3 linked regions of the Homo sapiens genome follow. Changing the gene in region 3 together with the main gene of any one other region gives a genetic interaction. Each region holds a gene or a part of one and is shown on either strand. Other genes may lie near its edges. The genes, in order: TSPO, ITGA6 and MAPK8IP1.

Region 1 (4,437 bases), on a different chromosome or scaffold from region 3:
ACTCAGAAGGCTAAGGCAAGAGAATTGCTTGAACCCGAGAGGAGGAGGTTGCAGTGAGCCAAGATTACGCCACTGCACTCCAGCCTGGGCAACAGAGCAAGACTCTGTCTCAAAATAAATAAATAAATAAATAAAGCAAACAAAAAAAAAGAAGGCGACCCAGAAACACAATAAGGAATGTGTCCCTTCTCTGATCCCCACCCCGACCCCCAGCTGCACCCACTCCCCTGAGCCTTGTCTCTCCAACGAAGCCAGCACTGTCCCAGGGACTTGTTTTCAGGCTTTTTAAAAATGATTCATGGCTAATCGTCCTCATCGTAACCTTTGTGTGCATTTTTCATTACAAAAGTAACCAGTGAAACAGCCCACAGGTCTGGAAAAATCCACAGCGAACCTGGCCATCGAGTGGCCTGGGAGAGGGTAGGGTGAGGGTGGGGTATCCAGGGGGAATTGGTTCTGTTAAGAAAGACTACTTCCCTTTCCTTCGAGGTTCGGGGGTTAAACTTTTTTTTAGTAAAAAATAAAGAAACAGCCTGGCCGACATGGTGAAACCCATCTCTACTAAAAATATAAAAATTAGCCAGGCTGAGGCAGGAGAATCACTTCAACTCTGGAGGCGGAGGTTGCAGTGAGCCCAGCTGGAGCCACTGCACTCCAGCCTGGGCAATGGAGCGAGACACCGTCTCAAAAAATATATATATAAATAAAAATAAGAAATTAAGAATGACTTCCCTAGTGGTCTAGTGGTTAAAAAAAAAAATAAAAAAGACTACCGTTTTAAACAGAGAGCACATCCAAGCATTGTTTGCACCATCAAAAGTAAAGAAAACACAAATAAGCCGGGCGCGGTGGCTCACGCCTGTAATCCCAGCACTTTGGGAGGCCGAGGCGGGTGGATCATGAGGTCAGGAGATCGAGACCATCCTGGCTAACAAGGTGAAACCCCGTCTCTACTAAAAATACAAAAAATTAGCCGGGCGCGGTGGCAGGCGCCTGTAGTCCCAGCTACTCGGGAGGCTGAGGCAGGAGAATGGCGTGAACCCGGGAAGCGGAGCTTGCAGTGAGCCGAGATTGCGCCACTGCAGTCCGCAGTCCGGCCTGGGCGACAGAGCGAGACTCCGTCTCAAAAAAAAAAAAAAAAAAAAAAAAAAGAAAACACAAATAAGCCAGGAACAGTGGCTCATGCCTGTAATCCCAGCACTTTGGGAGGCTGAGGTGGGAGGATCGCTTGAGCCCAGGAGTTCTGCAGGAGACTGCAGTGAGCTATGATTGCATCACTGCACTCCAGCCTGCATACCAGAGTGAGACCCTGTCTCAAACAAACAAACAAAAACAAGAAAGGAAGGAAGGAAGGGGAAGAAAGAAAAAAAGAGAAAGAGAAAGGAAAGAAGGAAGGAAGGAAAGAAAGAAAGAAAGAGAAAGAAGAAAGAGAAAGAAGGGGTGGGAAGGGGAGGGGAGGGAGGGAGGAAGGAAGGACGGAAGAAAGGAAGAAAGCAAGCTAAAGTGAAAAGTAGGCTCCCTCCCTGCGAGCCCAAGCCCCTCACCCCAGCTGGAGAACCCGCTGTGAATACTTTCTGGTAGATCCAGCCAGACATCCTGCCTCACGCCAGGCACAAGTGTGTACAGACGACAGGACACAGCACATGTGCACACACACACTCCCAGGAAAGAAAGTGGTCCTCGGGGCACAGTGGAGAAGGCAGGCTGGGATCAGCCTGCACGGGTTCTGGCCCTGGCTCCACCGCGCCAGCTGCGTGACTCTGGACAAAGGCTTCTTTGGCAAGCCTCAGTTTCGCCGAACCTCCCTGTGGGGCTGCCAGCAGCCAGGTGGAGACTCAGGGGCCGCCTTCCCCTGCTGGGCTGAGGCTGGCTCTCCTGTCCTTGCCACACGGCCCCTTTCACCGCCAGTGGAAACCTGCCTCAGGCTGCCCTGTCCCGGGCCCCACCGACTCCACAGAGACGCCGGGCCTCGCCCACTGTTCTGGCAGTAGGCCTTCATGGGCAGGGCTTGCTGTGTGCCAGGCAAGCTGGGCGGCTGCTTCCTGTACACCACCTCCCCTGATATCCTCGCCCTGCCTGAGCCCATTCTGGGACAGCCTCAAGTCCTGTCTCTCCTGCCATCCAGCCCAGGGCACGCTGCTGGTATCCCGTAGCCCTGGCCCCTGGCAGGCTGGCCAGAGGGGCTCCAGGCCCACGCCAGGCCATGGCCTCTGGCAGCTGCCCTGGCCAGCAGCGCGTTCACAGCAGGAAGCCCCCGCTTCTCCTACCTGGGCTCCGGCTTCTTTGCAAGGGGTAGGGGAAGCAGACAGGTCCCAGAGGCTGCTCGGCTCACAGTAAGACCCGTCTAGGCTGCAACGCACCTGAGCCCCGCACTGGGAATCGAGGGCCAGGGGGCCTCTAACCGGCTTTGGGCAAAATAAACTTCCCCGATCTGGACTGTTCTCCACTACGAAACGGGGTGTCTCGGAGATCAAGAGCCCGAGGTCTCCCAGATATTCTGAGACCCTCAAGGGAGTTCCGCCTGGGATTGCCCATCCGCGGAATGGGCAGGAGAGGGAGCGTCGGCCACTCCTGGGACCGCGCTTCCTGCAGGAGAAGCCACGCGGCCAAGGGCTGGGCGTGGCAGGGTTGTCCAAGTTTTCCCTCCCGAACCCCCAGCCGGAGGCGGCCCGCGCTGGAACCCCGGCCGCGGAGGCCCAGACTCTGCTGCCCGCCGCCCCCTGACCCGGTAGCCGAGCCCCAAGTGCTGCCCCGGGTCGCCCCCTCGGGTGTCCAGTCTGCGGCTCCGGCCTCAGTTTCCCTCTGTCCCGCGGCGCTGCCAAGAGTCGCAGCCATGCGGGCCCCCACTTCCCGCTGCCCCCTCCGCGTCCCGTCCTCACTCACCAGCGGCGAGGGCACGCTCCGGGAAGGGCACTGCCTGGCAGGAGTTAGCCAGGCCGCTGTCCCCGCATCCGCCCCGCCCCTCCCAGCCGCCAGGCCCCGCCCCTCTCAGTCGCCCGGCCCCGCCCCGCCCCGCCTGGCAGCCCGGGCACTGGGCCCACTCGCGTCCCCGCGGGACCGGGAGCTCACTCCTCAAAGCCACCTCTCCCGCGGGACGCGCTTCTGCCTCCCCCCGGCCGCGAGCAAGTCTCTCGGCTCCTCCTCCTCCCCATGGTGACCGGTGACGGCCGCCCGGCCAGACCCAACATCTAAAACGTTGCCGTGTGTCCAACGGCGTGTCGTTTGTCGTCTCTTCTAGCCTCACTTTTCCCATCTATAAAATGCAGCAACAAGACCGATCTCCGAGTGGGGAATTACCTCTCCTGAGGCCAAGGCCCTGAGCGTCCTGCTGCCCAGCAGCCTTGGCCCCATTTCCGGAGCACCCCAGTTCCTTGAGCTGTTGACGCAGGGCACGGAGGCAGCGCGCTGCACTCTTAGTCCTGGCCCAGCCACTTTCTGACTGGCTCTCTGGGCCTCCATCTCCTCATCTGTAAAATGGGCACAAAGTCGTGGGACTGATGAGGCCGCAACGCGGTGATGCAGGCAGGACACCCCTCAGATGCTCGGCGCTCAGTGAGGGGAGGCTGCCATCATCACAGCCCAGAGGTGGCCTCCAGCTGCCCAGGTCCACTCCCATGCAGGGTGTGTCCAGCCCCAGGCCCTTGGCACTATGGCTGTCTTGCTGCAGTTCAAGGCTGTCCCAGCTCCCTCCAGACAACTCAGCCTGGCAACGCCCCATCAGCCTGAACCAGCCACGTTGGCCCAAACTGATCCTGCAGGGTCCAAGGAGAACTGTGGCTACTTCTACCCAGACACAGAAGCCAGGAGCCTCCTTGGGGACCAGCCAGGCTGCAGTATGGCTTTCCTAGGACCTGGCATTTTTGCCTTTGTGAGCCTCTTCCTCTATTAAAAAACAAACATACATAAATCTATTTTTTACTGTGTTGGCCTGAAGACAAGGATAACCCAGGCTTGGTTCCATTCTTCATTCATCTTTTTCTTCTGGGTTTCTTTTTTTTTTTTTTTGAGACGGAGTTTCGCTCTTGTCTCCTAGGCTAGAGTACAATGGCACAATCTCGGCTCACTGCAACCTCTGCCTCCTGGGTTCAAGTGATTCTCTCCTCCCTCAGCCTCCCGGTAGCTGGGATTACAGGCGCCTGCCACCATGCCCGGCTAATTTTTGTATTTTTAGTAGAGATGGGGTTTCACCATGTTGGCCAGGCTAGTCTCGAACTCCTGACCTGAAGTGATCCACTGCCTCGGCCTCCTAAAGTGCTAGGATTACAGGCGTGAGCCACCGCACCTGGCAGCTTTGTTTTTTTTTTTTTTTTTCTTTTTTAAAATTCCTTCTGGCCAGGCACGGTGGCTCATGCCTGTAATCCCAGCACTTTGGGAGGCCGAGGTGGGTGGATCACTAGGTCAGGAGTTCGAGACCAGCCTGGCCAACATGGTGAAACC
Region 2 (3,330 bases), on a different chromosome or scaffold from region 3:
CAGCTACTAGGGAGGCTGAGGCAGGAGAATGGTGTGAACCTGGGAGGTGGAGCTTGCAGTGAGCCAAGATCGTGCCACTGCACTCCAGCCTGGGCAACAGAGTGAGACTCTGTCTCAAAAAAAGGAAAGAATGTTGCCAAGTTGGAGGCAGGACCAGGCCTCTTGGCTCCTGGTTTATTCTTCTTCCCACCCTATTTACTAGCACATATTATTGAAAGCTGCCCAACAAAACTCTATACTGATGGAAATGTTCTGGAGCTGCAGCATCCAGTATGGTAGCCATTAGTCATGTGTGGCGGTTAGGCACGTGGAATATGGCTGGTTCACTTGAGGCACAGAGTTTTAAATGTAATTTAAATTAATTTCAATCTGAATAGCCTCACGGAGCCAGCAGCTCCCATATATTGTACAAAGTGAATCTAGGCTTTTACCTTCATGAGTTGCTGGACTAGGAATCAGAGTTTTTCAGGAGATTTTATTTGACCAGGTTAAATTTTATAAAAGACAGTTCCATGGCCTTATGAACTAGATAAAAGTAAATAGGAAAAGTTCTCTATCACTGAACGAAGGAAATTATAGTAGAAAGTGGAATTATACTTTTATACTCATTTAGAGTGACCTAACCTGAGGAGCATTGGGTCCCTACCATTTAAGGGTTTTATGGTGCTCAGAGTTTGGGAAAATGACAGCAATCATTCTTTCATGATGGTGTATTCGAATTTGTATTGTGATTCACCCCACAGATCCAAAGGCCTCAAGTAAATGGCATTTGTTCCATAAAATTTACTGTAAAAGGCAGAAAAATACCCATAGTATATCTATATTTTATTTGGATTTGTGCTTTTATTTAGAGAATTTATTTTCTAACCTTTGTCTCAATAAACTGCCGAAGTCAATCTTTTGCCTCTTTTGGAGTTCATATTCTCCTGCAGGAAGAAACTACCCAAAGCTACAATCAGCAATGTATATACGTTTTCCCTATTAGAATGATTTTTGTCCACAAGATTTCTGTTACAAAGAGAAAAATCAATGAGCTGACTAGTGTCATCCATATAAATATTTGACCAGAGATGTATGGTGAAGGGTGTATTGAATATGACAATGAAACAATGCAGTGGCTGTTCATTGTTGGTTGACTGAAAGTGGTCTGTTTGTAAACAAGCCACTAGTAGAAGGCAGATTAAAATTTGAGATGTTCTGTTGTTTGGCTCTTATACACAAAACTGTAAAATTGACTAAATACCTTGCTTCCTTGTAGTGTGGTTTCTTCAAGAGAAATAAGAAAGATCATTATGATGCCACATATCACAAGGCTGAGATCCATGCTCAGCCATCTGATAAAGAGAGGCTTACTTCTGATGCATAGTATTGATCTACTTCTGTAATTGGTAATTGATCAATGTTTTTTAATTGCTAGCTGTGGGACCCGCTATGGTTGTGGTGGCTAACTTTAAGAACAACAGCTTGCTATGTGTGTCCCATTAACAGATGTTTCCAAATGTCCACACTGGCTTGCCTTGCTTGGATTTGTTTTATTTTATTTCACTTGAAAGCTCAGTTTTTGTTTTTTTTAATGCACAGTCTTTCGTTGCAGGTGAGTTATTTTATGTTCTTGTTAAATATCTACCACAGCAATGAAGAAAATTTGCAATATTTGTACACACAAAAAGAGACTTTTAGCCCTCCATAGTAGCCCAGTTTGCAATGTGTTATTAATTCGGTATGTAGCATTCCACTAGGGAATTCAAAGATGCATAAGAAATCATTCTAGATTTCTTGTCCATTTTGGAATTTTCCACAGATAGAAGCTGTGTCGACCGCCTAATTAACCTGTTGCATGTTGGAAATGTTGTGTTTCTCTTGGTGAGGCTTCCTCACTGTCATCTTTTTGTTCTCTTTGCTATAAAGTGATGGGGAAGGCTTGGAATGCTTTTTACTGTTGCTCAGGAATCGTTTTATGCTAGCTAAGCATGCAACTTCCATTTCCTGCATGTCTCCTACAGGTCAAAGACCATTACAACAAACTGATTATCAGCATGATGGGCTTTTATGGCCAACTTCAGAAGATGATCCCTTACCAAAGTTACCTTCCATCTACAAAATTCTAGTACAAAAAATACCCTGAACAGTTTTTATTGCAATATGTTGTGATGGAGTTTGACCATATTTCATGTATCCAGAGATTTTATCCAACCTTGGATCTCAGTTGATTTTAAATTCAAGTTTCTCTTATTTGGAAATACATGGAAATAGGAATTGCTAGTGATCCCTTTCACCATTTACGTGGGCATGAGAGGACAGAATTACTCCTGTAATCCTTTCCATGGCACTATCACAGTGAATCACAACATTGCCATTCAGCTTTACATATTACCCTTAATTTCCCTCTTTGTTTAAATGGGGTAGACAGCAGTCATATTTTGTAATAGATAGGTACTTTGGCTTTTTTTTCTTTTTTTTTGCACAGAATAATAAATGAATCCATGTAGAAATGACCTGGAACAAAACATCTTGGTCCATTTTGCCTATTGATTTAGTGATAACTATACATATAATTTTATCTTGCTCCATGGCATTTTTATAACATAACATCATTCAACATAAATGTCCTGTTACTATTGACGTCACACAATAAACACATTAACAGTTCTATCAATATCCTCATTCTTCTAAACTGCATTTTAAAGTTGAAAACACCTTTTTTTAAAAAAAGTAAATATATTTCATTTAAAAATTTAATCTCAATTCAAATTTTTTCAGATATATTCTCAGTAAAAATATACTTTGGATCAGATTGACTATTTAAATGAATTTTATATATATATATAAACACACACATTAACAGTTTAAAGGTAAATGTATTTTTGCAAAAGAAGAGAAATTAGGGAGTGCTCTGAAATTCAGTGTAGTGATGCACTTCTGAAGTCCTATGCAGCACATGATTTTTATTGCAGGAAACAGTTACTATGTGATTAATGAAATAGCTTAATTAGAAGCACAATAGCAAATCCAGGCAACATAAATGACCTCCTGGCTAATGAGAGAAGTGATATGTGTACTAGAGCCTCAGAGGAGAGAAAAAGATTATAAAGTTGACCTGTTGGAACACTGGCATATTCAAATAGTAATTTGTAAAATACTTGTGACATGATTTGCATTTTATTAGTGGGAAAGGGGCATGAAATAATCTTTGGTTTATGCCATTTAAAAATTATTCTTAATCTAATCTGATAATCAGATATTTTACATATCATATTGTGATTATTTTTAAATATGGAAGCACTGTTTTCATAAACTCTTAAATTGTTAGTAAAGAGGTAGCCTACATTT
Region 3 (4,156 bases):
GTATTGGGATATTCTCAGGGCTGGTGGTCGGAGGTTGCCTTCTGCACGGAAGGTGCCTCCAGCTCCTTGCTAGGTGCCGCACTGAAGGAAAGGGGCCAGCATGACTGGTCGGCAGTCCAGATTTGCAAATAGGACTCCACGAGTTGTGGCACAGTTTGCTCTGCACGTTTTCTGCCCTGTGGACAGGGTCTCTAGGGTTCTCTCGAGAGACCAGAGAAGCCAATGAGGTTTGACCAGAGGCTCTACGACCCAGCAAAGCTAAGGCCCTAGCCTTGGCAGTCCGTACTCTGAAATAACTCAATCGGGAAACTCAGGGACTTGAAGGCCTGGAAGCCCAGGAATAACACCCTCTCGAGGGAGAGACAATGAGGAAGAAGCCATGGCCAAAGCCTAGCAGGGATGGAGGTGCCAGAGGGAACAGAAACAACCAAAATGATCCCAAGAAGTCAACAGTGGGAGGAGAGGGAAAGGCGCCAAGTCTTAGAATGTGTGTCTGTGGGTGCAGAAGAGGGGTGCTCTGCAGGAAATGCAGTTGAGGCGCTAAGAAGGAGAATGCTGGGAAGGTCCTGGCGAGAGACCGAGAAGCCTGGAGGGCTCAATTCACCACGAGTAGCTGTTTGGGGCTGAAGAGAGATTTGGGTCAATCTTTAGAGAAGACAGCCTCTAGGGAGAGTCTTTGGGAGGGTCCCCTCAAGGTAAAGGGACAGGACTGGGGTGAGGGCTGGATCCCAGCGCAGGAGGTGGAGTGTTTCTGGGTCTCAGGCAACACATTTGTGTTACGTTACATTCTCACAACAACCATGAGAGGGACTGCTATTGTCCCATTTCACAGATAAGAAGACCAAACCTTAGTGCTCTGAAGTCACTAATGCAAGGCCCCACTGCCCAGTCACTTGTGGAGCCAGTGAATTCACACCACCTGACTCCAAACCTGTACACTTTAAGAGCCCACTGACATCCTCTCCTTTCTCTGCCTTCCTCCACGACCCTCCTTTTCCGCCTGCCTTCTTGGTCTCTGCTGCGGGGGGCCAACCTGGACCTTGGGGTCCAGTGTCCTGCCATTAGTCATCTGATACCCGGGCACTAAGCCCAACCGGAGGGACAAAGCCCACACCGGCCACGGGGTGGAGGAGAGTCGATGTCGGATTTAGGGCGGGGCTGAACCAAGCCCAGGGCCGCGGGGGCCGTGGCTTCAGCACCGCGGAGAGCGCCATCTCCGGGGGCGGGGCTGGCGGGGTGGGGGCGGGGCCTGGGCGGGGCGCGCGAGACCCCGGCCGGGTCCCGGGGGCGCGCGCGGGGCGCTCTCGCCAGTCCCGCGGGCCGTGCGCGGTGCTGTGCCGCGCCCTGCCAGACACAGGTGCGCCCGCCTAGCCCGAACTCCGCGGCGGCGGCTGCCCTCTCGCCGCGCCTCCGCCTCCTTCGCAGCCGCCGCCTCCTCCGCGCCGCGCTCCGCCCGGATGGCCAGGGCTGTGCCCGAGAATGGCGGAGCGAGAAAGCGGCGGCCTGGGAGGGGGGGCCGCGTCCCCGCCCGCCGCCTCCCCGTTCCTGGGGCTGCACATCGCTTCGCCTCCCAATTTCAGGTGAGAGTCCCCGGCCGCCGCGCGCCTCGCCCTTCAGCGGGGACTGATCCGCATTGGCTGCCCTGCCCGCCCCCCACCCCAGAACCTCGGGAACCCGGGAACGAAAGGGCTGCGTGGGAGTGGGGTCTCTTCCCGGGACAGAGCCCCCCTCAGAAGCCCCGCCAGCCTCAAGTCCGGACTGGTAGCCGTTGCATGTTCACGAGGCTGTTCCCTCCGCCATTCCTGGTCCTAGGCTGGGAGGTCTGCGCTGGAATTGGAGGAGGGGGCTCGGAGGCCTCCTTCTCCCCAACCTCCGGGCTGCGGCAGGGTCTGGGGTCGGGGTTGCGATCCCGGAGCGGGCAGGCAGGCTGCATCTTAGCCTGTGAATAGAGCTGGGAACAGCCTGGAGGGGCGCGGGTCGCAGTTTCCTGGGGCAACGACATTGTTGGTGCTGGGAGGAGGATGTTTGAGCCCCTCCCCGAGCCCTGCCTGGCCAGATGGGCCTACCTGCCAGGCCTGGCGTGGCCGGGCCCCTCTCTGGATTGGGCAGCACCGACCTAGGCAGGTGTGTCTCTCAGGGCAGGCGCTGAAGGCTCAGCCTCAACCAGGGGAATCCTAGGCCCGGCTGCGGGAAGGGAAGTCGGCTCGGCTCTGGAGTAGCCAGGGCCAGCGAGGGTGTCGAGGGGATCCCTGCTGGGGTAAATACCCAGAACCCTGACCTGAGCTCCTATTCCACCACCCCCACCCCCCAATCTGGTGTTAGGCCCGATGCATTTCAGAGAAGTGAGGGGTGAGTGTTGTGTGGAGGAGGAATAGATGTACCTCCCCCATAATTCTGAACCCTAGTTGGTGGGGAGGAAGAGGCCGAAGTCACTGCTCCCGGCCTAGAGAGGGAGGCTTAGACATACCCCATTGTTTCCCCATCTCGAGAACTGGCGCCTTCCCCTCTCCTGGGGCACCACCCCAGCCAGGCTCCAGCTGGGCTGTGGTGCCAGCCCCTCCTGGGAGCAAGGGGTCACTGGCTCCCAGGTCCTCAGGTGGGCAGAGACCCCTGGGGATCTCTAATAGCATCATCAAACTCAGAAACCTTCCCTGAGGCCCTGAGCTGAGCTGGAAGGACCAGAGGGGGCCAGATGGAGGAGGCCAGGCCTGAAGGCTCCAGGGCTGCAGCTCTCTGATAATGCCTTAGACTGAGGTCTGAGACTCCACCTGGCATGGTGCATGAGGCCTCCATGCAAATACTGCCTCCCCACCTGGAGGCCTCTGCAGTGGAAGCACATGGGGCTTAGAGGGACCTGGGTTCAAATCCTAGCTCCACTACTTTCTAACTGCATGACCCAGGCAGGTTTTTGTCCTCTCTGGGTGCCATCTGTTAAGTGGGCTAATTAATATTGATTCTTGCCTGGAAAGGAGAAAAAGCACATCAGGTCAGTGTTCAACAAGTGTCAGCCCCCACACTAGCAGACAACACTACGGCTCGCTGCTGTCCAGAGTGTCTTCCCAAGGCCCCTCCTTTAACCCTCATAACTGCCCCAAGAGAGGGTAGTGACCTGCCCATTTTATAGATGAGGTGATTGAGATTAACAAAGGCAGGGTGGCTCATCTGGAGACTACAAAAGAGTCAGAGACTAAGGCTACACTGGGACCCAGGTCTGTGCGTGTTTAGTCCACTCTACGTCCCAGCCCTGCCTCTGGCCCAGTGGGCAGCTTTTCTTCCTCGACCTGCTTCCCCAGGTGTCATAGATGCTTTAATGAGAGGAGCTGAGGAAGCAGACACCAGCCAGTGAATGTGTGGCCAGCTCTGCGGCATGTGGGACAAGGGTGGCAGTAGGCCACGAGGCTGAGGTGTGGGCCAGCACTCCAGAACATGGTGGCCTGGCTGCGGAGACAAGGCCAGTGCGTGGGAATAATAAGCGTCAGTGTCTCAGGCCCTGCCGGCCTGCCCCGCTGCTCCCAAAGCCCCCGCTGCCCTTTCTCCTGGCCCGCCTCTCACTGTGCTTGGCCAGGCTCCACTTAACCCTGGGTGGGTAGATAGTGCTTTCTTGTGGCTCTTTGGTGGAGTCATAGATCCAACTGGCCTGGGTTTGAATCCTGGCTGGCCCTTCTTACCTGTGTGCCCTGACACTGGGCACTTAAGCCCTCTGAGCCTCTGAGATGCCAGCACTGGCCCCTGCTCAGGATGGTCCTAAGAATCAGATGAGATAACACGTGTTGAGTGTTTCAAGGGCTGAGGAGAGCCGCCTGTAGGCAGGGCTGTGTGTGTGCACACACACACAGGCGCCTTGACCCCCAGTGCCACTGTCAGCTCCCAGAAAATAAAGGGGGTCTGTACCCAAACTTTGGTATCCCCATTGCTCAGCACGGGATAGTTACTCAATAACAGTGGTAAGCGCTGACATTTGGAAGGCACTCAGTTCGCCCAGGCACCATTCTAAGAGTTTCCTATGTGCAAGAGTATTTACTCCTCCCAATAACTGTATCAACAGAGCGTTGTTATTATCCACACTTGCATGAAGAAACTGAGGCAGAGGGAGGTTAGGTAAGTGGCAGAGCTTGTAAGTGGCAGGCAGTCTGATGTCAGAGCCACCCCAAAAAGA

What was found.
Region 1: changes in MAPK8IP1 (region 3) and TSPO together harm fitness less than expected from each alone (positive genetic interaction), as found in Homo sapiens cells (one large-scale study listed by BioGRID).
Region 2: changes in MAPK8IP1 (region 3) and ITGA6 together harm fitness less than expected from each alone (positive genetic interaction), as found in Homo sapiens cells (one large-scale study listed by BioGRID).

Annotation. Positions count from the first base shown.
Region 1 is NC_000022.11:43,150,051-43,154,487, reverse strand, and holds the start of TSPO (translocator protein), read right to left. Parts: upstream 2,930-4,437; 5' UTR 2,884-2,929; exon of another isoform or gene 1-2,883. UniProt on the Homo sapiens protein: Can bind protoporphyrin IX and may play a role in the transport of porphyrins and heme. Promotes the transport of cholesterol across mitochondrial membranes and may play a role in lipid metabolism, but its precise physiological role is controversial.
Region 2 is NC_000002.12:172,500,514-172,503,843, forward strand, and holds part of ITGA6 (integrin alpha-6 isoform b preproprotein), read left to right. Parts: intron 1-1,258; coding exon 1,259-1,366; 3' UTR 1,367-1,388; intron 1,389-2,794; exon of another isoform or gene 2,795-3,330. UniProt on the Homo sapiens protein: Integrin alpha-6/beta-1 (ITGA6:ITGB1) is a receptor for laminin on platelets. Integrin alpha-6/beta-1 (ITGA6:ITGB1) is present in oocytes and is involved in sperm-egg fusion.
Region 3 is NC_000011.10:45,884,342-45,888,497, forward strand, and holds the start of MAPK8IP1 (C-Jun-amino-terminal kinase-interacting protein 1), read left to right. Parts: upstream 1-1,309; 5' UTR 1,310-1,479; coding exon 1,480-1,580; intron 1,581-4,156. UniProt on the Homo sapiens protein: The JNK-interacting protein (JIP) group of scaffold proteins selectively mediates JNK signaling by aggregating specific components of the MAPK cascade to form a functional JNK signaling module. Required for JNK activation in response to excitotoxic stress.